Regions from separate parts of the Homo sapiens genome. Here regions 2 and 3 are each linked to region 1. Evidence: fine-mapped expression QTL. A gene starts in region 1. Each other region holds a variant in brackets. All regions are shown on one strand. Distances are between the middles of the regions.

Region 1 (7,885 bases):
AAAAAGTAAATCAATGATCATTGCCAGTTTTATTTTTTTGAGATGGAGTCTTTCTCTGTTGCCCAGGCTGGAGTGCAGTGGCATGATCTCGGCTCACTGCAAGCTCCGCCTTCCGGGTTCACACCATTCTCCTGCCTCAGCCTCCCGAGTAGCTGGGACTACAGGCATCTGGCACCACGCCCGGCTAAGTTTTTTGTATTTTTATTAGAGATGGGGTTTCACCCTGTTAGCCAGAATGGTCTCGATCTCCTGACCTCGTGATCCGTCCACCTCCGCCTCCCAAAGCGCTGAGATTACAGGCATGAGGCACCCTGCCCGGCCTGGGATCATTGACAATTTTATTAACCACAAGGTCTATACCTTGCACACAGTAGGCTTGTAATAGATGTCAGTTATCAATAAGGAGAAGATATATTTTCCAGTGCCTGGCACACTATAGCCCCAAATAGATGCCAGTTTTTAGTATTACTGATAATAAGGTGTGATTTGCAGCCAGAGCACAGTAGGCCTAAATGATAGATCCTCACTGCAACTACGCTTGGCACACAGGAGACAGCAGTAGAGGTTAGCAGTACTTCCTATTAGATACTATGTCATCACCCCCATAGAGTAATCCATGGGATTTAACTTGGCATACAGTAGGCCCCAAATAGGCATTAGGTGGTCAGTATTATTTTGTTGTTTTTTTTGGATTTTTTTCAGACAGGGTCTCCATGTGTCGGCCAGGCTGGAGTGCAGTGGCACAATCTCGGCTCACTGCACCCTTGACATCCTAGGCTCAAGAGATCCTCTCACCTCAGCCTCCCAAGTAGCTGGGACTACAGGCATGCACCACAACACACGATTAATTTTTGTATTTTTTGTAAAGACGGGGTTTTGCCATGTTGCTCAGGCTAATCTCTTAATCCCTAAACTCAAGCAATCTACCCGCCTCAGCCTCCTAAAGTGCTGGGAATGCCAGCTTGAGCCGCCACGCCCAGCCAGTCAGTATTGTTAAGAATGAAATATCTGCCGGGCACAGTGGCTTATGCCTGTAATCCCAACCCTTTGGAAAGCCAAGGGTGGGGGGTGGATCACCTGAGGTCAGGAGTTAGAGGCCAGCCTAGCCAACATGGTGAAACCCGTCTCTACTAAAAATGCAAAAATCAGCCGGGTGTGGTATCACGTGCCTGTAATCCCAGCTACTTGGGAGGCTGAGACAGGAAAATCGCTTGAGCCCGGGAGGCGGAGGTTGCAGTGAGACGAGATCACGCCACAGCACTCCAGCCTGGGCGACAGACCGAGACTCTGTCTCAAAAAAAAAAAAAAAAAAATTGCCAGGTGTGGTGGGGCGGGGCGTGCCTGTAGTCCCAACTACTCGGGAAGTTAAGGCAGGAGAATCGCTTGAACCTGGAAGGCGGAGGTTTTAGTGAGCCGAGATCGCGCCACTGCACTCCAGCCTGGGTGCACAATAAGACTCTGCCTCAAAAAAAAAAAAAAAAAAAAAAAAAAAAAAAAAAAAAAAGAATGAAATATCTATTCCCCCAACCCCCTCCACTTGACACGCGGTAGGGATGGATGTCAGGAATCCACATTGTTAACAACGAAAAATGCCTGCCACCCCATTGCTTGGTGCACAGTTGGCCCATGCTAGGTATCAAGCGTCAGTATCAACAACAAAAGTGCCTGTCGAGGCTGGCACGTGTTAGGACCATCTGCTTTTAGCTGTCTCACCAGGCTCCAGATGTTTGAGGATGCCTCTCTTGGCCAAGCGGGTCTGCAGCGCAACGGGCAGCGGCATAGCTGATAGCAGACAGACCTAGGGACAGACGAACAAACTGACAAGCAGCTCAGATAAAGATTCCTATCTGGATCCCGTAACCAAGCGCCTCCCGTAAACATGTACTCATCTGACTCCGATCTACTCAAATGAACCAGTAGCTGGGTGGACAGAACATACGCACTAAAAGATGTAAGAGGTAGGTGGCAATATCATCGCAACTCCCACCAACCCTACTGTCCCCGAAACCAGGTGCTCCAGGGCCCTGTTCCTCTCCCAGGCCCAGGCTCCGCCCACAGCCTAAGAAGCCCGGCCCCTCCGCACTTCAGAAATGGGCTCATCCAGCGTCCCCATGACTGCCGGGTGGGAGAAACCAAAGCGCTGGGATGGGGGAGCAGAGGGCAGCACTTCCTCCAGCTCCAAAAGAGTGCACCCACCCCAACGTTACCAATACACTCGTGCAGGTAGTGGAAGGCTGTCACACCGCCCGTCTCTCTCGTGTCGCCGCTACGATACCTGGGCCCACACGACTCTCTTCCCAAAACACCGAATGAGACCTTCTCTCAACGAGGCCTTCACTCCCCGAGCCTGAAAGTAACTGGACTACGCTCAGGAGGCAATGAACAAATGGCAGAAACTCGATTGGCCAATGAGAGTGCGTCCTTGGCGTGACATGCGGTATAGCGACCCAATCGCTGCCCGGTAATAGGCGGAAAGCTCCGACGCCGGTGTGCGTCTACGCTGGGGGCGTGGCCTGACTGCGCGGCCAGACGCCAGCGCCATGGAGGAGTACGCTCGGGAGCCCTGGTACGGCAATGGGCACAGGCATCCGGAATATTGCTGCGACGCCAAGGCCAGCCGTGGGGGTCGGGCGGGGGAGGCATCGGCCGCACAGAGCCATGTACCAGACTCGGGGGACTCTTAACGTATCTCCCGCTACCCCCACTCGGTTCCTGTCATTCGGGCTCCGTTATGAGGGGCCACAACCAGAGAAGGTGCGGCGAAGGCCGAACCACGCCATGTTTCTCCTGACTTCGTAATCTCCTAGCCCTGTTAACGAAAAAAGACACGCTGGACGATCCATCCCGGCTAGGGGTGGTACGGTGTTGACCGGAAATCCCCAGAGTTGCCGCCAGTGGTTTTTCCCAGGTCGCCTTTGTCAGTGGGGGGCGGGGCACGGATGAACCTGTTGAGGGCCGGCGGGGACGGTGGATGCTTCCCGCGGTCGCTCTTGGTTTTTCCCAGTTGTGCCGGATTGAAAAGGGGCGGGGCATGGTTGGACGGGCTCACCGTCGGAGAAGGGGTGCGACGCGGTCCTGCTTTGCTGACAGTCTGTCTTGGCTAGTTAACACGCCTATGTCGCTTATTGAAACGTCAACTCTGCGTGTGCCAATTCATTTAATCTTTGATCACAGTAAAACCGTTGGCTGATTCCTTGGTTGGTAGACAGGGCGAAGACTAATATTTCTCCCCCTTTGCCCCATTTCTCGCTTTAATGGGGGGGTGTGTGGAAAAAGCGTGACAGAACTAGCTCATTATTATCTGAAGTGTTTGTTCCTACTTAGGAACTTCCCATTCTGGTGACTTGGTTTCTCCCAGTTAGAAAAGAGTTCGTGTGACAGGACCTGGGGGAGGGCTCACATTAACCCCGTCCTTCCCTTCCTGCTTGCAGCCCATGGCGAATTGTGGATGATTGCGGTGGAGCCTTCACTATGGGTGTCATCGGTGGCGGAGTCTTCCAGGCCATCAAGGGTTTCCGCAATGCCCCTGTTGTGAGTCCAGGCCTTCCCTGGGTTGGTGTGGGGTTAGCTATCTTGCCCACAAGGGAGGCTGCTCTGAAAACTGCTTGGAGCTGCCAGTCACGTGCACTTATTCATTCTGGTGCCCACTCACCTACTATGTGCCGAGCCTGGCTCCTGTATCTGGGATTTTGTAGGGATTGCAAACATGGCCTCTGTCTTCCACCCTCCACCCCACCCAACTGGAGCTCCTCTGTGGAAATGCTGTGTCGTTCAAAGAGTCATCACCAAATTTTAAATGTATGTGCAAAGCCAGACAGTTTTTTTTTTTTTTGAGACAGTCTTGCTCTGTTGCCCAGGCTAGAGTGCAGTGGCACGCTCTTGGCTCACTGCAACCTCTGCCTCCTGGGTTCAGGCAATTCTCCTGTCTCAGCCTCCCAAGTAGCTGGGACTACAGGCATGTGCCACCAGACCTGACGAATTTTTGTAATTTTAGTAGAAATGGGGTTTCACTATGTTGGCCAGGCTGGCCTTGAACTCTGGACCTCAGGTGATCCACCTACCTCGGCCTCCCAAAGTGCTGGGATTACAGGCGTGTGCCACTGTGCCTGGCCATGTTTTTTTTTTTTTTTTTTTTTTTGAGACAGCATCTTGCCCTGTTGCCCAGGCTGGCGTGCAGTGGCCTGATCATGGGTCACTACAGCCTCCGCCTCCCAGGCTCAAGTGATCCTCCCACCTCAGCCTCCCAAGTAGCTGGGACCACAGGACTGCGCCACCATGCCCGGCTAATTATTTATGTATGTATTTATTTATTTGTAGAGACGGGGTTTCAACGTGTTGCTTAGGCTGGTCTCTAATTCCTGAACTCAAGTGATCCACCCACCTCAGCCTCCCAAAGTGCTGGGATTACAGGTGTTAGCCACTGCGCATTTTACCTAGAGGCAGATTCTGGCTCAGAAACCCGGATAGAGGAAAATGACAGGAATTTAATTGGCAGACGGAAGACAGCCTTGAAGTTGAGAGAATTCTTTTAACATAATTCTTTTTCTCTGACCACCTCCCCTCCCAGAAGATCGCAAATGCCATGACTTTAAATGCCATCTATTAGCCAAGGTCTCTGCAATTTATATATGTAGCCCCGTCCCTCCCCTAGACTCCTGGAACTCTCCTCCCTGGATCTTTGCCCAAGTTTGTCATCCTCAAGGTCTCAGCACAGATTCCCCCTCCTTCAAGAGGCCTTTCCTGACCCCTCAGCCCCAGTCATATTTCTTCATGGCATTTCCTCTACAGTGCAGATTGCTGTCTGAAGCTCCCTTGTTTATCTACTCTTGCTCAAGATCTGTGTCTCCCACCGTTAATGTGAGCTCTGAGAGGGCAGAGAGCAGACCTACCTTGTTCATGGCTGTATCCCTGCATATGGCATGGTGCTTGGCACATATAGTAGGTACTTGTTAATCATTCACTGAATGAATGAATGAACAAATGTATGAATGAATTAGCACTTCTCAACCTAGCTCTGAGAACACCCATGTTGGGGCGCTCTCCAGGCCACTAGTTCTTGGCCACTTCTCCACATCTCTACAGCTCATACCTCTAACAGGTCTCCCATCTTCTTCCCTCTCTTAAAAGTTGGAAACGTGTCTGCCAGTGGCTTCAGCCCTGCCCTAACGCCCTTCCTTCCTTTCCCCAGGGAATTCGGCACCGGTTGAGAGGTAGTGCCAATGCTGTGAGGATCCGAGCCCCCCAGATTGGAGGTGAGGGACTTGGGGAGATAGATATAGGAGATGTCTTGGCAAAGGTGGGAGTGGTTGATCCTTTGGGTCTAGGCTGCAAGTTAGGGGTTCAGATTCTAGCCCCTGCCAGAGACTTTCTAGGGGGGTGATGTTTCCCAACAATTGAATATGGAGGGGAAGAAAGTGGGTTCTGGAGTTTAAATCTAGGTCCTGACTGTTCCCTGCCATGTGACCTTGGGCTAGTGGCTTAACCTCTCTGAACCTCACTTGTACCGTGGGGGTGGTGATAACAGTAACCACTTCATCGGTAGTTTTATAGTTTATGTAATTTACATACTACTAAGTGCTGGTTGCTATGCTAAACACTTTAATAACATTAACTAATTTAAAATTGCAGAAGTTAAATAACAGAGCACCTCGAACAGGTCCTGGCACACAGTAAGCCCTCAGTAAACATTTTAACTATCATATTAACTGGGTTTCCTAACCTATTTCCTTCTCACTGAAACCCAAATCAGAATTCCAACTCTGTGTGGTGATTATGAAGCTCAAAGTTGCTCTGTTAAAAGCCATATGAAGATAAATCTGCTTGTAAACATTTGTCAACTCCCCATAAAGATGAAGGGAATGTTGATGGTGATTATAGACGGCTTGAAGTGGGAGCTACCACAGGATGGGGACAGATAGGAAATACTCTGTGTGGGTTTGCTATCTGCCTTTGTGTCTGGGTTTTTCTCCCTGTTCTTGGCCAAAGCATTCAGGCCTTGGAAGTCCCCTGAGATGTGAATTCTCAGGATTTCCCAGGAACTAATTAGGCCTCGGTTCCACTACAGGTAGCTTCGCAGTGTGGGGGGGCCTGTTCTCCACCATCGACTGTGGCCTGGTGCGGCTTCGGGGCAAGGAGGATCCCTGGAACTCTATCACCAGTGGAGCATTGACCGGGGCTGTGCTGGCTGCCCGCAGTGAGTGACCCCTGGCCCTGGCCCCAGCCCCTTCCACCCTGTTCTGCCTGCTCTCACCTCTGTTTCTCTGCCTCCAACTCCCCCAGGTGGCCCACTGGCCATGGTGGGCTCAGCAATGATGGGGGGCATCCTGTTGGCCCTCATTGAGGGCGTTGGCATCCTCCTCACTCGCTACACAGCCCAGCAGTTCCGAAATGGTGAGTAACTGGTGGTCGGGGGAGTGGGAAATACTCCACCTGGCCTCTTCCACTCATCCTTACCCAAGTCTCCCTTCTCCAGCGCCCCCATTCCTGGAGGACCCCAGCCAGCTGCCCCCTAAGGATGGCACCCCGGCCCCAGGCTACCCCAGCTATCAGCAGTACCACTGAGGAAGCCACTGCCACCATGGGAGCTACTTCTCGGTTCCCTCCCCGATGGTCTACCTCGAAGGGAGGGCTGGCTCCCAGTTAGCCCTGGGACCCTCCAGAGAGGGTTTCTACTCTGCTCCCTAGTCCCAGGGTGGGGGTGGGGCACCCCAGCTGCCCTGACAGATGGGTCCCCTTTTTCTCTCTCAGGGCACCCCAGCCCCACACTCACATGTACGAAGTTCTCACCCCAGCTCCTTTGTGTGGCACCCTGATGAGTATTTAAAGCCCGTTTTGAAATGCCTATGTGTGGACTCCTTGAACTGCCTATGGGGCCCCTCCTTAGGATGAGGGGCAGAGCCTGCTTCAGGGACTTGGAAGCCCTAGGACTTGGAGGCCCACAGCAAGTGGGCTCTAGTAAATGTCTATGGGATGGATGAGCAGGAAGGGAGAATGAAGATGTGAATTAGGGACATGAATAAGGTTGTCTGGGGCCTGGTGATGGGTCCTAGCTGTCAGAGGAACAAGCTTGGGAAAGAAGTGAATGAACACCAGGATTGCTGGGGATGGGGGTGGTTCTGGACGTTGCACCCCTGACCCCATCCCCCCCCACACACTCCAATATCCCTGACTCCTGGTCCACAAGCCCCCGTCACCGAGGCTGGGAAATGTGGCCTCACAGGAGTCCCTTCTTTCTGGACACTCAGCACGGCATTTGTGAAGGTGATTCCCCTCCCTCCATGTGGCCTCAGGGTGGATCTGGGATGGAAGAAGGGGGCCAGGAGACCTAGCTCCTTCAAAGAAGGTGCCCTGGATCAGCCTCCCCTTCTGTCACAGAGCTGCTTTTCTGCTTTCCTCTGCTCAGTGTGGTCAAGTGTTTTTATTTGTTGTTTTGAGACGGAGTCTTGCTCTGTCACCCAGGCTGGAGTGCAGTGGCGTGATCTCGGCTCACTGCAACCTCCACCTCCCGGGTTCAAGTGATCTCCTGCTTCAGCCTCCTGAGTAGTTGGGATTACAGGCGTCCACCACCACACCCAGCTAACTTTTTGTATTTTTAGTAGAGACGAGGTTTCACCATGTTAGCCAGGCTGGTTTCGAACTCCTGATCTCAAGTGATCCGCCCACCTCGGCCTCTCAAAGTGCTAGGATTACAGGCGTGAGCCACCACGCTCGGCCAATTTTTGTATTTTCAGTAGAGACGGGGTTTTACCATGTTGGCCAGGCTGGTCTCAAACTCCTGACCTCAGGTGATCTGCCCGCCTCGGCCTCCCAAAGTGCTGGGATTACAGGCGTGAGCCACCGCACCCGGCCAGGTCTAGTGTTTTTAAAGGGTAACCACAAAATAACC
Region 2 (5,000 bases), 74 kb after region 1:
CACAGCCCCCGCCCCATGCAAAATAATCACATGAGGCAGCCATGCAGAGGGGCCTGTGGTCTCCCTTTACCCAATCACAGAAGGGGTGTGTGTGTGGGGGGTGAGTGTGCACGTGTCGAAGGGTCTACCCAGGGCCCACCTGGTGGTGGACATAGGCCTGACAGTAGTAACACCAGGCTGACAGGTCGATGTAGCTGAGGACCAGCGGGTGTCCAGAATTTCCATGGTGTTGGAGCATGTGGCCATTGATGTAACGACCACAGTAGACCTGAGGTTGGGGGTGTGAGTGTCAGGTGGGGGTCAGCATCCCCCTGCAGTTTGCTCCCGGGCCAACCTCCGCCCCATCCCCTTCCTCTGCTCCATACCTGATAGCAAGAGAGACACACCCAATTCTCTTGGATTGTTCCACAGTCCCCACAAGGTTGGGTCACGTCTAGGCCTGCTGCAGGTATGGGGCATACTGCCACCAAATGGGGACACCAGGGCAGTGGTGTCACAGCATAAAATATGGCCTGGAGTGGGTGGGTGAAACTAGGTAAGCTGAAGACCCCATCTCCCCATTATATGTTTATTCATCACATGCTCCTACCTGGAGACACAAATTGGCAAGAGAAGGAAGCCACAGTCCCAGCCTCTCCCTGAGCTCACCTGATCAGTGAGGCCCCTAGATCCCTGCATCAGCATCGAATCAGCCATGTCCTGACCTCCAGCTGCCTCTCCTAGTAGGTTCTCCTCTCCTGGGGCCTGAGATTCTGAGGCCCCCTGGACACGCAGAAGTAAGAGATGTATCAGAGAAGCCCGATTCTTGCCCCTTCTTGCCCCTACCTGGGTGTGGTGAGCCTTACCTGAGATTCGCTGCCTAGCTCCAAGGTCCTGAGACTCCCAATCAGTGTACTGGGAGATATCTGGGGTGTAGTTCCCTGCACAGGTGAGGTTGGGGGGGTCTGGTGGTCTGTGCTCGAGGCTAGAGGAGTTTGGATCAGCTCGGTGCCCCCTGGAGCCTCCTCTGACGTAGTCTGGTCCAGTGTGGCTCCCTCCATGGCTGCCTCCGAGGTGGTCTGGGCCAGTGTAGCTCCTCCTACAGCCTCCTCTGAGGTAGTCTGGCCCAGCGTGGCTCCCCCAACAGCATCCTCTGAGGTGGTCTGGTCCAGAATGGCTCCTCCCACAGTCTCCTCTGAGGTGGTCTGGTCCGGAGTGGCTCCCCCGACAGCCTCCTCTGAGGTGGTCTGGCCCAGCATGGCTCCCCCAATGGCTGCCTCAGAAATGGTCTGGGCCAGAGTGGCTCCCCCTGTGGCTGCCTCTGAGGGCTGGTCCTGAGTGAGGGCCACCACAGCTGTCTCTGAGTTAGTCTGGCCTGGAGTGGACTCTTCCCCAAATGATGCCGAGGTGACTTTCCCCATGCCTGCTTCCAGAACCTTCTTTTCTCGTGTGGTCATCCGCTCAGCTAACCTAGGTTTGGCTGGTTGGGGTGCCTTCTTGGTGACCAACTTAGAACTGGAGGGTCCTTCTCTGTCTTCTACCTCTGGAACCAGGGAGGGAGATCCTTGAGTGTGGGTACTGTCACCCTTCCTGCCTCTGATCTCTGCCCCTCAGCCCCCTCCTTCCCTGGGTTCCCCCCATCACCCCCAAATCCACTCACTCATGACCCGTAAGCTGCGCCAGTATCTGCGATGGACTTGGATGGTCTCAGTGATTGAGGCCAGGGCCCCTGATAGTGGGGGCCGTGGCAGGGTCAGCAGGGGTGGTGGGTCTCCAAGGAGGGAGCGAGTGCAGGCAGCCATGGACTCTGAGATGGATGTCAGGTTATAGCCACCCTTTGTTAAGGAAAAGGGGAGGGAAAGGTATGGTGGGGGTTCATTGGGGAATTTGGAGGACAACATGTCCTGCCTCCCCAATCCTCCCTACTGAGCCCTGCAAGTCTGGAGAGGGAGGGGGAGTACTGAGAACAAGTGAACAGAACCCACACCTTTAAGATAGGCAGCACCCACTGTGTAAGGTGGTTGTTGTGGGGAGTAAATTGTGATGTAAAGTGCAAGATAACAATACTGATAAAAGCATTAGTAACAGCTGACATTTATTGTTTGCTGTGTGCCAGACCCGATTTTAAGTACTTCATGCATATTAACTCAATCCTCACAACCACAGGCGCTCAATCTATACAGGAACTTGCCTTCATGCCATACAGAAATCCGTCTTCACACTGTCCAGGAACCCCTGGCCTCACATCATACAGTAACCACTGACCTGACCTGCACAAGACGACTGCTGTGAACCCATACAAAAGCCCCTGCCCTGACCTAGTACAGGAACAACTGGACTCTTTCTCCACATGGACTCCTGTATTGACTTTTTTTACACTCTACAGGAATCCCAGTTGCTATTCTTTTTACAGATAAAGAAACTGAGGCTCAGAGTGGTTAGATGACTTGTCCGAGGTCATAACAGCTGAAGAGGCAGCACTGGGGTTTGAACTTGGGCTCTCTGATGGAGTCATCTGTGTTCTTAACTCCCACCGTGTCCTGTCACAAGCAGTACTGGGCACATAGTAAGTGCGACTTTTTGCAAGCCAATTAATTTCTCAGTGACTTATTTTCCTCATCTGTAAAGTGGTGAAAATAACAGCACAGGCTGGGCGCGGTGGCTCACCCCTATAATCCCAGCACTTTGGGAGGCCGAGGCGGGAAGGTTACCTGAGGTCAGGAGTTTGAGGCCAGCCTGGCCAACATGGTGAAACCCCCGTCTCTACTAAAAATACAAAAATTAGCCAGGCGTGGTGGCATGCGCCTGTAGTCCCAGCTACTCGGGAGGCTGAGGCATGAGAATTGCTTGCTCGAGCCTGGGAGATAGAGGCTGCAGTGAGCCGAGATAGCGCCATTGCACTCCAGCCTGGGTGACACGGCGAGACTCTGTCTCAAAAGGAAAAAAAAAAAAAAAAAAAAAAA[G/AG]AGGCAGGTATGGTAGCTCATGCCTGTAATCCCAACACTTTGGGAGGCTGAGGCAGGTGGATCACGAGGTCAGGAGTTCAACACCAGCCTGGCCAACATGGTGAAACCCCGTCTCTACTAAAAATACAAAAAAATTAGCTGGGTGTGGTGGCAGGCACCTGTAATCCTAGCTACTCAGGAGGCTGAGGCAGAGAACTGCTTGAACCCAGTGAGCCACAATCGCACCACTGCACTCTAGCCTGGGCGACAGAGCAAGACAACGTCTCAAAAAAAAAAAGAAAAAGAAAAAGAAAATAAGAGCACAGAAGGTTGCTGAGTGGGTTAATATCTGAACAACGCATAACAGTAACCAGGGGCCAGGTGCGGTGGCTCATGCCTGTAATTCCAGCACTCTGGGAGGCTAAGGTGGGTGGATTTCTTGAGGCCAGGAGCTCAAGACCAGCCTGACCAACATGGTGAAACCCCATCTCTACTAAAAATACAAAAATTAGCTGGGCGTGGTGGCGGGTGCCTGTAATCCCAGCGACTCAGGAGGCTGAGGTGGGAGGATCACTTGAAGCCGGGAGGTGGAGGCTGCAGTGAGCTGAGATCATGCCACTGCAGACTAGCCTGGGTGACAGAGCGAGACTCTTGTCTCACAAACAACAACAACAACAACAACAACAAAAAACCAGATCCAAAAGATCCAGCATTTACCATATGCCAGGCATTCCTCCATGATTAGCCTGCCTCATAAAGATGAGGAAACTGAGGCACAGGGCGTGGGGATACTGAGTCATTTACAAAGGTCAGTGAATTTCCTTTGTCCCAGGAACTTGTTAGAGGCAGTTCAGGTAGAGTAAAAAGCACAAACCCTGGAGCCAGGCTGCATGGGTTCAAGTCCTGGTTCTGCCATCAGTAAATGTGCCATCTCAGGCTAGTCATCACACCTCTTTGTGCCTCAGTTTCCCTGATCTTCAGAGAGGAAAATGAGGTAAGCTTACCCTACCTCATAAGGCTGCTTTGCCAAGTAACTGAATGAATAAGACACATGAGGTGCTCAGAAGAGTGCTCTGCACATAGTGAGCACTCAATTAAGGCTGTTAATGTTGCTGTTATTCTTATTACTACCCAGTATGTGCCAACAATCCCAGGCAGGGACACTCAAAGGAGATTTCAGGAAACTGTCCTGAGTGATGGTGCCAACATTTCCAAACTACCCTCCCACTGTGGGAAGAGGGACCAAGAGAAAGTTACCTCTAGGATAAGGATAATGCGGCCACTGGCAAGGCCCATCAGCAGGTGGGTGAGGTGGGCATAACCCTCAGGTGACACCTGGCAGCCCCCCAGCGGATCCCCCCGTGCAGCATCAAAGCCAGCTGAGACCAGCACCAGTTCTGGGTTAAACTGAGGCAGGGAGAGAAGAGATGTATAAGCATGAGGGTAGGGGCTTTTGGTAGGCAGTAAGTGATGGCGACCCAGAGACATGGAGAAAAGGACAAATGAAGACATGGAGATGCAAGTCAGAGAGATGGAGACACAGAACCTGGAGACTAGGAGACACAAAAGCAGAGACTGAAAATGAAGAAGGGAAGAAAAGAAATACAGACTCAGAGGTAGAAGAAATAGATGCAGACTTAGAGACATGGAGATGGCAGAAAGGGACAGATGGGGGCCGGGCATGGTGGCTCAGGCCTGTAATCCCAGCACTTTGGGAGGCCGAGGCGGGCAGATCATGAGGTCAGATTGAGACCATCCTGGCTAACACAGTGAAACCCTGTCTCTACTAAAAATACAAAAAATTAGCCAGACGTGGTGGCGGGAGCCTGTAGTCCCAGCTACGCAGGAGGCTGAGGCAGGAGAATGGCATGAACCCAGGAGGCGGAGCTGGCAGTGAGCCGAGATTGCACCACTGCACTCTAGCCTGGGTGACAGAGCAAGACTCCATTTCAAAAAAAAAAAAAAAGGGACAGATGGGGACATGAGACAGACTGACACGTCAAGAGAGTGACATGAAAAACAGAGAGACAGAGACATGTCCTCACACACACATACCCCAGGGTCAAACGTGGGACACAC
Region 3 (10,910 bases), 110 kb after region 1:
CCTCTCCTTCCCCTCCTTCTCTTCCTCCCTCTCCTCTCTTTTCCCTCCTGCATCTCCCCGTTCCACTCCTGTGTGCCCCTCCTTTCATCTTCCTCCTCGTTCTCCCCCTCTTGCCGTTTGTCTTTCCTCTCCTCCCTCCTCTCGCTCTTCCTCCACTCTCATCTGCTTCTACCTCTCCCTTCTTCCTTCCATTCTCTCTCTTCTTCCCCCCTTCCCTTTTCCTCCTGTCTTTCTCCCGTCTCTCTTCTTCCCATCTCTTCTTTGCCCCCCTCTTCCCCATTTCCTTCTCTTTCCACTCTTTTCTCATTCTCTCCTGCTTCCTTTTTCTCCTCCACCTTCTTCTTTTCCTCCTTGACCTCCTCCTTCTCCTTTCCTGTTTCCCCTCTTCCTTGTCCTCCTTCTCTTTTTGTCTTCATTCTCCTTTTCTACCTTTCTCACACACCTTATCTCCCTCTCCCCCATCCACACACACTTTTTTTTGAGGCAGGGTCTCCTCTGTTGCCAGGCTGGAGTGCAGTGGCACGATCTCGGCTCACTGCAACCACTGCCTCCCGGCAGTGATCCTCCTGCCTCAGCCTCCTGAGTAGCTGGGACTACAGGTGTGTGCCACCAGGCCTGGCTAGTTTTTGTTTTTTTTTTGTAGAAATGGGGTATGACTCTGTTGCCCAGGCTGGTCTTGAACTCCTGGCCTCAAGTGATCCTCCCACCTCAGCCTCCCAAAGTACTGGGATTACAGGTGTGAGCCACCACTTCCGGCCTCTCTTCCCCTGTCTACATCTACTCTCCACTCCTTTCTCCTACTACTCATTTTCTCCTCCCCTCCAATTTCTTCATCCTTCTCCTCCCTTTTCTGTTCATCCTTTTCTCCCTTTCCCCATCTCCTCTCCTCCCCTCCTCCACTTCCTCTTATTCTCCCCGTCCCCCCGTCCTTTCTTCCCTCCCCCTCTAGAAGAGTCTGGGTGAGGGTGGGATGGCATGCAGGACCAGAGTCCCTTGCCTCTTGGTCACTTCACCCAGGACTTTGGGGTTCACCATCCTCTGCTCCCCAACTTCATCCCTATCTGTTGTATCTTGCCCTCTAACTTTCTCAGAAACCCCATGGTTTCCGGGCTTGACTCCCTCCTCCCTCCACCTCTGTTGCGTCTACAGACAGAAGGCCCCCTTAGTTCCTCCCTACTTCTTGGTTGGGGGGGGGTCAGTACCCCCCACTGCTTATCTCTGCCTTCCCCGCCCAACTTTTGAAATCACCCCAAGGCCACTGACTTCCTCTGAAGAGGGTGGCAGGTGGGAGGTACCTCTACCGGTACCCTCTCCCCTGGAGAGGCCCACCAGAGTTCTGCTTTCAGGCTCTTTCAGTTCCCAGGCCTCAGTTTCCCCATCTGCTGTATTGGGGGTGGTGATGGGCTGGGGCTGAGCTGAGACCTGTGGGATGGCCCTTTGCCTGTTTTGCCTTGTGTGTGTCTGTCATCTAGCTCTCCACTTCTCTATCCCCTGGGGCTCTTTCCCCTGACTCTCTGTTCCCTCTCAAGTCTGACTCTGTAGCTTCCCCAGCTTTCTGTGTTTCTATGATATAGCTTGTCTTCTCCTTCTGTGCTTTTTCTTTTTCTTTTTTTTTTTTTTTTGAGACGGAGTCTCACTCTGTCACCCAGGCTGGTGTGCAGTGGTGCGATCTCAGCTCACTGCAACCCCAGCCTCCCAGGTTCAAGTGATTCTCGTGCCTCAGCCTCCCTAGTAGCTGGGATTACAGGCACATGCCACCACACCCAGCTAATTTTTGTATTTTTAGTAAAGACGAGGTTTTGCCATGTTGGCCAGGCTGGTCTTGAACTCCTGACCTCAAGTGATCGGCCCACCTCGGCCTCCCACAGTGCTGAGGTTATAGGCGTGAGCCACTGCGCCCGACCTCTTTCTGTGCTTTTGTAATGTTTGATGATTTTCTGTCTTCTTTTCTGTCTTCCCATGTTTCTCTCTCTGGCTCTCTCTTTCTGTTACTCTTGCTTTCTCCCTCTCCTCTCCTATCTCTCTGAACATCTCTGCATCTCTCCCACTCTTCCTGCTTGTTTGTCTGTTCCCTCTGTTTCCCTCTCTTTGGGCCCTCTGACCTTATGTCCACGTGCCTCTTACTAGTCCCATACCCCTGACCGTACCCAGCCACATGCAGCTCAGGATAAGGAGCCTGGAATGCTGGCCCTGGCCCTATTGTGCTGGCCTGCTCTGTTTCTGTGTCTGTAGGGTGGAGTGACAGGGCTAGACTAGAAGGCTGTCTTCAAACTGCCCCTCACTCCTGCTTACATGACCCATGGTATAGACAGGCTAAGGGGCAGGCCCAGGCTTGGGAGTTATGCTAGGAAAGAGATGGGCCACAAGTGTGCCCACCGCCAACACCTTCTCAGCCCCAGGGTGCCTGCTGTTGCTCTCTGAAGAGAGTGTTTTGCTTCCCCATCTTGGTCTCCATCTCTTTCCTCTCTGTCTCTAATTCTGTGTTAGTCTCTGCCTCTTCACAGTGCTACCTGCGTGTATCTCTGCATTTCTATCTCCTTTTCTGCTCCCGGGTCTTTCCTTCTTTTTCTCCGGCCATCTGTCTGTCTCTGTCTCTTACTCGTTGAGTTTCTCTCTCTCTGTTTTTCCTTTCTCTTCATGTCTCTTTTGTCTCTTGCTCTTTGTCTCTGTGTCTCTGTCTCTCTCTTCCCATCTCTCCCTGTTTCTCCCTCTCTTCCCTGTCTCATTGTGTGTCTTCTGCTCACTCTTTCACCACTATTCCCTCATCCCCTCAACTCCACCTTACCCACCATGATCTCCCTCCAGCCCCACTGCCCCCAACCCCTGCACCTCACACGTTGGTGAGTCCAGGGCTGCCCACCCCTCCCATGGCAGGGGCCCAGCCTCCTCACCCCCAGTTATCACTCTCCGGACAGAGATAAAGTTTATCTCGAGGCTGGGGGATATGAAAGCTCCTTATCAGCTGCCCCACTAGAGTAAGTGTTGCCCCAACGGCGGCAGCAGGCAGCAGCTGGCACCCTCCACTCTCCCTCGGCCCCAGCCCCTCACCCCAGGTAACGTTCCAATCCCAGCCCTCAAGGGAGGGTCTCACCGGGCTGAAGGGAGCAGATATAAGGTCTAGGGGGCAGATATGGGGCTTAGGGGGAGATAGAGGTGGAATTTGAAGGTCAGATATGGGGTTAAGTCAGAGAGGTTTGGGGTGTAGCCATGGAGTTTGTGGGGAGGCAGATATGGGCGGGGTTGTGGAGCAGAGACGAGCTTGGAAGTTCAGAGACACATTTTGGGCTCAGGAATAGGTTGTGAAAACAGACGAGGTTGGGGGATCGGGGCGAAGTTTGAGAGTCAGAAATAAAGTTGAGAAGTAGTGTGGGAGTCAGATTCTGAGGGTCATAGAAAAGTCTGGGGAGTTCAAGGGTTTTTCTGGAGGAGAGATGGAGTTTAGGAGTCAAAGATCTGTTTGGGCAGACAGAATGTGGCTAGTAAAGGGGAGTTTGAGAAGCCAAGATAGAATTGGAGTAGAGAAAGGCTTGGAGCTGGAGAGATTCAGGGAGACAATGAGATGTGTTTTAGGGCTGAGATACGGTTTGGGGAAGGCAGACATGAGGGTTCATGCGGCAGAACAGATTTTGGGGAGTTGACTTGGTGTTTGAAGTGACAAAGATATTTTACTGAGCAGGCAGGGAGTTGGGAGAGATAAATGGTTTGCGGAGATCAGAGAGAAGTCATTGGGAACAAAGAGTGGGTTTGAAAGGCAGAGATGGTGGTAAGAGGATGGAGCTAGGGTTTGGCAGATCAGAGACAGGTTTGGGGGCTCAGAGAGAGTGGGGCAAAGACAAGGCGTTGTAGAGCAGATAAGGGGTTTGGGAGCAGAAAAGTGAGGTTTGGAGGAGAAGTCAGGGAGACAGAGACAAGTTTGGGTGAGTGGAAATCAGATATGGGACAGGGAAAGGATTTGGGGAGATAAAGTCATGTTTTGGGAGACAGAGTTAGTGTTTAGGGGAGACAGACCTAGGGGTATAGCGAGCAAAGTGAAGGGATCCAGAGGATATAGATATCTTGGACGGAGTGGATGAGAGGGCAGAAAGAGGTGGGGTTTAGGGGGTAGATTTGGGGTAGAAATGGGAGTTGGAAAGACAGGTGGGTTGGAGGAGCTGTAAAGGGATTCAGGGCTGGCTGACACTTTGGGGACCAGCTGTGGGTTGGGGAGCCTGGAGCAAGCATAAGGGTAGGGGCAGCAGGCCCAGGGTTGCCTTGGTGGGGGCTCTCTGGGGGCTGAGACTGACCTGGGCTGGTGGTTGCGGAGGGTTCGGCCGCCTTGGGGATGTGGCAAGCTCAGTGTGATCCCAGGGGGTGTCCTGGCTGGCCTTGGCCTTTGAGGCTCCCTTCCTCCCTCCCTCCCTCCCTCCCTTCTCCCTCCTCCCTCCTCCCCAGGGAGTGGCTGGTGCC[C/T]CAGTGGGTGGGGCAGTCCAGGGGAGGGGGCGGGTCCCATGCTTGTGGGGCACCTCTTGGGCACTGGAGGCCCTCTTCCACCCTCCCTGCCCACCCTGGGGATTCTTGGACCTCGCTCGACCTAGGCTCCCGTGGACTGTAGTGTCCAGACAAGCAAAATAGGCTGAAACCAAGATAAATGAAAATAGCAGATATGGTTTCATGACTTCACTGGGCTTTTCAGAGAGTAAAGCCCTTAATTTGTGCGGGGCCGGTGTGGGCTAGACTCCTGTGTATGTGCGTCTTCCTGGCTGCAGGGAGAGAAGGGATGTGGCTGTACCCATTTTGCAGGTGAGAAGAGTGAGGCTCAGAGAGGTTCTGCTGGATTTGAACTAGAGCCTGTGGGATACCTTGATGACCCAGGCTAAGCCTGCAGGCCAGGCCAGTGCTGGCGGGAGGCAGGGGCACACTCACTTAGCGCCCCACTGGGGCTTACGCCAGCTCCGGCCTGCCCTGGGGCAGCAGATAAGTCTTATCAGATGTAGGCGACCGTGGCTGTTGGCGCCGCAGTAACAGGCTGTCTTGGGGTGAGGGTGTGGGGGTAGGAACACCCAGGGACAGTGGCCTCAACTTCTTGCCCGCCATGCTGCCTTGGAGGCGGGAAACTGAGGTGGGAGCCAGGGATGATTCCTCGAGGAGTGGTATAGGGTAGGAAAGGAAAGGGGTGGAGTGGGAGAGACAGAGGCAGAGAGACAAACAAAAACAGAGATAGGCGGAGAGAGATGGAAATGGGGAGAAAGAGAGTGACAGAGATGAATAGAGAAGGAGACAGACGTGGAAAGAGGCAGAGAGAGGGCACAAAAGAAAAGGAGAGACAAAGAGGGCGAGACACCCGGGGAGAACCAGAGACCATTAAAGACATATAGAGAGAGGCAAAGAGAGAATGAGAGACAGAGATGGACAGAAGTGACAGATAAAACCTGAAAGGGAAAGAGGCCAAAGACAGAAGTGGAGAACTGAGAAGGGAGACAGAGACAGAGGGATATTCAGAGACAGACTCAGAAGAAGGTCCAGGCAGACTGGATCACACCCTGGGCATGTGGTGCCCATGCAGGTAGGATGGGAGGATGTGGATTGATGTAGCCTGTGGCTCTGCCCTCAGCCCTCAGCAGGGGACAACCAGAATGTGGCTAGGCCTCCGCACCCCAGTCCCCACACTCTTGCCCTGCCCCACCTCCTCCAAATATTAATGACAACAACCACAGTGTCTCATAGACCTCACATAGACTTGTACCTAACCTGAGCACTTTTTCTATATGAAAGCATCTGACACACATGCACACGTGGGACAAGGAGCTGTCCTGCCCACCTAGTCTACAGATGGGGAGACTGAGACCTACAAAGGGCAGAGGCCAAGGGTGGAGCCCCAGGTCAGTGGGGTCAGCTTGCCCACTGGCCCACCCTGGAGGGATCTTACCATTCTTATCTCACTCCTCTGAGCCTCAGTGTCCTCATATGCAATGGGAGATTTGAGGAGGAAAGAGAGCAAGCCCATGAATTCCTATTTATTGAGCTCCTGCTGGTGTGCCACGCCCCATGCTGAACCCTCATCAGTAATAAGGAGAACGAATACAAAGACACCTCTGACTTAAGTGGCAGTGGTTTCAGGAGATGGTCTCTAGAGCCAGCTCATCCTCGTTCATAGACTGCCCTAACCACTAATGGATCAGGTGACCTTGGGAGAGTTACCATCCCCTCTGGAATTTAGCTCCTCATCTGTAAAAATGGGGTAATAATATACCCCAATAAGCCACTCCATGCAGTGACTGGGGAGACTAAATGAGTTTTAACCCATGTTACATGATCTTAACTTACTTGAATCTGAAATCTCAATAAATATTAAGTACCCCTATTTATTTATTGAGTACCTACTGCATACAAGGGAGAGTACATAGCCCTTTCTAACCCTACTACTACTTATAGTACTAATGCTAATAATATGCTGACACTAAGAGTAATACCAATATTGTAATATTGATACTGACACTAAAACTAATTTTATTTCTTTAAATTTATGATTGACACATAATAGTTGTACATATATATGGGGTAAAACATGATGTTTTGTTACATGTATACATTGTGTAGTGATCAAATCAAGGTAATTAGCATATTCATCACCTTAAACATTTATCTTTTCTTTGTGATGAGAACATTCGAGAACGCCTCTTTCAGCTATTTTGAAATATACATTTATTGTTGACTCTAGTCATTGTACTATGCATTAGAACACCAGAACTTATGCCTCCTATCTAACTGTAGCTTTGTACCCATTGACAGCCTCTCCCCATCCCTCCCTGCCTCCTACCCTCCCATCTGCTGGTAACCACTATTCTACTCTCTACTTCTATGAGGACATACTAATTTTCATAGTAATACTCATCTAATGCTAATACTAATTTTAATCTAACACTAATACTATTATTAATACTAACACTAATTCTAAAACTATTCTAATTCTAACAACAATAGTGATAATGATACGTACTAAATATTTTTTGGGGACAGTGTCTCACTATGTCACTCAGGCTGGAGTGCAGTGACAATCTTGGCTCACTGCAGCCTCCACCTCCTGGGCTCAAGTGATCCTCCCACCTCAACCTCCTGAGGAGCTGGGACTTCAGGTGCATGCCACCACACCCAGCAAAAAATTTTTTTTCAATAGAGATGAAGTCTCGCTATGTTGCCGAGGCTTGTTTAATTCTGATATTAATAATAGCATTAATAGACTAATAATAACAGCAGCGGCATTATTTGCTGAGTGACCCCAGGCACTGTGCTAAGCGCTCTCCACCCATAATTCTATCGCATTCTCACCAGCTCCTTGTGGTGCAAGTGTGTATAATTGCCCTCACCTCCAGACTGGTTCTACATAGGTGTGTGGAAATGAAGATGTTCCTCCAGGGCCCTGGGTTCTTGTCTCAACTCTGATTTGCTGTGTGATTTGCTGTGTGATTCCTGGGCCAGACGCCCTCTGAGCCTCAGTTTCTTCATCTGGAAAACGGGTAAAGTCCTAGCCCCCCACGTGGGTAGGAACCACTCAGCACAGGGCCTGCTGGCACACCATAAATGGTGTGCTCTGTAAATGGGAATTATCATCATCATTATTATTATTAGAAGCAGCGGTCGCAACATAGGGAAATCTGTCCTCACAGGGAATGGCAGGCTCGAGGCATGTCTAAGAGCTAAGACAAGGGTTTGGCCGCTGGACTCACCCCATTTCTTCATTTCTGGAGAGCACAGAGCGCTCAGGAAGAGAAGCCAAGGGTGAGGAGTAGGGCGCCCCAGAGCCCTGCCTCCAGCAAGAGCTGGAAACCCCGAGGCTGTGAGGCCAGGCCTCACCCCATTCCCTCCCCCATCCCCGTGGAGGGGGCGCAGGCTCAGAAGTCTGCGGCGACAGTTCAGCCAGCAAGGAGGCAGCTGGGAGTGGGCAGATAAGGGAATCAGTGGGGCCAGATCAGGCTTTGGGGGAGACGAGGGCGGGGGTGGGGTGTCCTGGCCGCGCGTCTTCTCCGTCAGGCCTAAGTTTGAGACTCTTCTTCAATGTCCTCTCTTCTCGGAAGCCTTCCCTGACTGGCTCACTCCCTCCTGGCATCTTCTGGGGTTCTAGAGCCCCTGCTTGGTCCAGGCCCCATGGCATTTGTACTGTTTGTGCCTCTTCTGTACTGTGGAGCCCATCAGGGTGGGGACAGAGCCTGACAGACTGTGGTGTCAAAAGCACCAAGGCAAATGTCAACCAAAGCCTGGTTAAGGAGTCAAGCGTTTGCCCTCAGAAACAAACTGTTGGTTGACTGTTTTAAAAAATGGAAAGTATAAAGGGTGCTGTAACAAGCATCTACTTTTGTCAAACATTAATATTTTGCCTTATTGACTTCAGATTGTTTTTAAAGGATATGCGATATTACAGATGCTCTTGTACTGATTCCATTTCCCTCTCTCCTTCTACTGCCTTGAGCTTGGTGTTTATCTTCCTCATGAGTATTTTTACTCCATCACTCCATATGTTGGTACCCATAAACACCATATGATACCTGGGGTTTTTTTGGCCTGTTTTTGCACTTCATGGAAATGGAAGCACATCATACAGTATGTGCTGCTTTTGCTCAGCATAATGTCTGTGACATTCTTCCACATTGTCGTGTGTATCAATAGTTCATTCTTTTTTTTCTTTTTCTGTTTATTGAGACATAATTCACATACCATAAAATTTGCTCTTAACCATAAAATTCACTCTTAAAATGTATAGCAAAGCGATTAGTATATCACGAGGTTGTGTAACTATCCACTACCTAATTCCAGAACATTTTCATCACCCCCAAAAGGAACCCTATATCTATTAACATACACCCTCCCATTCCATTTCCCTCTCCTCCCATCCCCGGGCCATCACAAATCTCTTTGTCTCTATGAATTTGTCTGTTTTGGACATTTCATATAAATGCAGTCATATAATATGTGGCCTTTTGTAACTGCCTTCTTTTACTTCACATAAGTTTTTTAAGGTTCATTCATATTGTAGCATGTATCAGTACTTCATTCATTTTCATGACTGAATAATATTCCTTTGTATGAAAATACCTACTACATTATAGCTAGGATGCGGTGGCTCACACCTGTAATCTCAGCACTTTGGGAGGTTGAGGTGGGTGGATTGCTTGAGCCCAGGAGTTCGAGACCAGCCTGGGCAGCGTAGCAAGAACACGTGTCTACAAAAAAGAAAAATTAGCCGGGTGTGGTGGTGCATGCCTGTGGTCCCAGCTACTTGGGGGGCTCAGGTGGGAGGATCAGCAAGTTGAGGCTGCAGTGAGCCATGATTGCACCACTGCACTCCAGCCTGGGCAACAGAGTGAGACCCTGTCTCAAAAGATAAAAGGAAAAAGAAATGCCACATTATGCTTATCCATTCACCCATTGATGGACTCTTGGCTATCACAAATAATGCTGCTATGAACATTCATGTGAAAGTTTTTATGTGGACATATGTTTTTCGTTTTCTTGGGTATATAACTAGGAATGGAATTGCGGGGTGATATGGTAATTCTATGTTTAACTTTCTGAGGAACTGCAAGTGTTCTCCACAGCTGCCATATGGGGATTCAAATTTAAATTTAACCACATTCTCTCCAACACTCCTTTCTTTCTTTCTTTCTTTCTTTCTTTTCTTTTCTTTTCTTTTCTTTCTTCTTTCTTTCTTTCTTTCTTTCTTTCTTTCTTTCTTTCTTTCTTTCTTTCTCTCTCTCTCTCTCTCTCTCTTTCTTTCTTTCTTTCTTTTTTCTTTTTTTTCTTTTTTCTTTTGTTTGGCAGGGTCTCACTCTGTTCCCCAGGCTGGAGTACAGTGACATGATCTCTGCTCACTGCAGCCTCAACCTCCTGGGTTCAAGTGATCCTCCCACCTCAACCTCCTGAGTAGCCAGGACTACAGGTGCATGCCATCACACCCAGCTAAATTTTTGTTAATTTTTCGTAGAGATGGGATTTTCGCCACGTTGCCTACGCTAGTCTCAAACTACTGGGCTCAAGCAATCTGCCTGCCTTGGCCTTGCAAAGTGCTGGAATTACAGGCTACCATGCCTGGCCTCCAACACTTTTTATTGTCCCTCTTTTTGATTCTAGCCATCCTACTGGGTGTGGGTGTGAAGTGGTGTCTTGTTATGGTTTTGATTTGCATTTCCCTGTGACCACTGATGTTGAGCATATTTTCATAAACTTGTTGGTCATCTATCTTCTTTTTTTTTTTTTTTTTTTTTTTGAGATGTAGTCTTGCTCTGTCACCCAGGCTGGAGTGCAGTGGCACGATCTTGGCTCACTGCAGCCTCCACCTGCTGGGTTCAAGTGATTATCCTGCCTCAGTCTCCTGAGTAGCTGGGATTACAGGCACCCGCCACCATGCCTGGCTAATTTTTGTATTATTAGGAGAGATGGGGTTTCACTATGTTGGCCAGGCCAGTCTCGAACTCCTGACCACAAGTGATCCATCCGCCTCAGTCTCCCAAAATGCTGGGATTACAGGCATGAGCCACCGTGCCCAGCCCATTTATCTTCTTTGGAGAAGTGTTTATTTAAATCCTTTGCCCATTTTGAATTGGGTTATTTGTCCTTTTATTGTTGAGTAGTAAGAGTTCTTTATGTATTCTGGATACTAGACTCTTTTTAGATATGTGATTTTCAAATATTGTCTTCTGTAGGTTGTCTTTTCACTTTTTTTTTTTTTGAGACAGGTTCTCACTTTGTCACCCAGGCTGCAGTGCAGTGGGGGTGAACGTGGCTCACCGAGGCCTTGACCCCCCAGGCTCAAGTGATCCTCCTGCCTCAGTCCCCCAAGTAGCTGGGACTACAGTTGCATGCCACCGTTCCTGGCTAATTTTTGTATTTTTTGCAGAGATGGGGTTTCACCATGTTGCCTAGGCTGGTCTTGAGCTCCTGGG

Alleles and levels. Positions count from the first base shown, and alleles are read on the strand shown. Sizes are in standard deviations (SD) of each study's normalised expression.
As copies of AG replace G in region 2, the expression in monocytes of the gene that starts at base 2,360 in region 1 goes down (large effect, 1.2 SD a copy in Fairfax 2014).
With allele C in place of T in region 3, the expression in esophagus mucosa of the gene that starts at base 2,360 in region 1 is higher (small effect, 0.28 SD a copy in GTEx).

What was found. PIP is the estimated chance that this variant, and not a neighbour inherited with it, causes the effect. A credible set is the group of variants that fine-mapping cannot tell apart.
Region 2: its variant is the best candidate, but not a certain one, in a credible set for the expression of PQBP1 in monocytes (Fairfax 2014, PIP 0.56).
Region 3: its variant is the best candidate, but not a certain one, in a credible set for the expression of PQBP1 in esophagus mucosa (GTEx, PIP 0.52).

The regions. Positions count from the first base shown.
Region 1 is chrX:48,892,405-48,900,289 of GRCh38, reverse strand. It overlaps PQBP1 (polyglutamine binding protein 1), which reads right to left and starts at 2,360. Exons shown (of 7, transcript NM_001032382.2): 1 at 2,208-2,360; 2 at 1,714-1,798. The coding sequence starts at 1,780. TIMM17B (translocase of inner mitochondrial membrane 17B) reads left to right here and starts at 2,522. Exons shown (of 6, transcript NM_001395498.1): 1 at 2,522-2,566; 2 at 3,432-3,531; 3 at 5,189-5,252; 4 at 6,065-6,193; 5 at 6,280-6,390; 6 at 6,473-6,841. The coding sequence starts at 2,541. The coding sequence ends at 6,561. RefSeq lists enhancers at 1,697-1,916, 1,967-2,336, 2,627-2,826, 2,857-3,006.
Region 2 is chrX:48,819,434-48,824,433 of GRCh38, reverse strand. HDAC6 (histone deacetylase 6) reads right to left here. Exons shown (of 29, transcript NM_006044.4): 23 at 4,179-4,328; 24 at 1,640-1,814; 25 at 846-1,522; 26 at 649-762; 27 at 366-512; 28 at 140-268. Among named protein-coding and RNA genes, the nearest start is that of ERAS, 4.6 kb to the left of the region's middle. The variant G/AG (reference allele first, on the strand shown) is at 2,943.
Region 3 is chrX:48,780,019-48,790,928 of GRCh38, reverse strand. It overlaps GATA1 (GATA binding protein 1), which reads right to left and starts at 4,339. Exons shown (of 6, transcript NM_002049.4): 1 at 4,284-4,339. RefSeq lists cis regulatory regions at 952-1,532, 4,092-5,212, 5,652-6,312, 7,844-7,965, 7,632-8,132 and 1 more and an enhancer at 7,537-8,265. The variant C/T (reference allele first, on the strand shown) is at 4,447.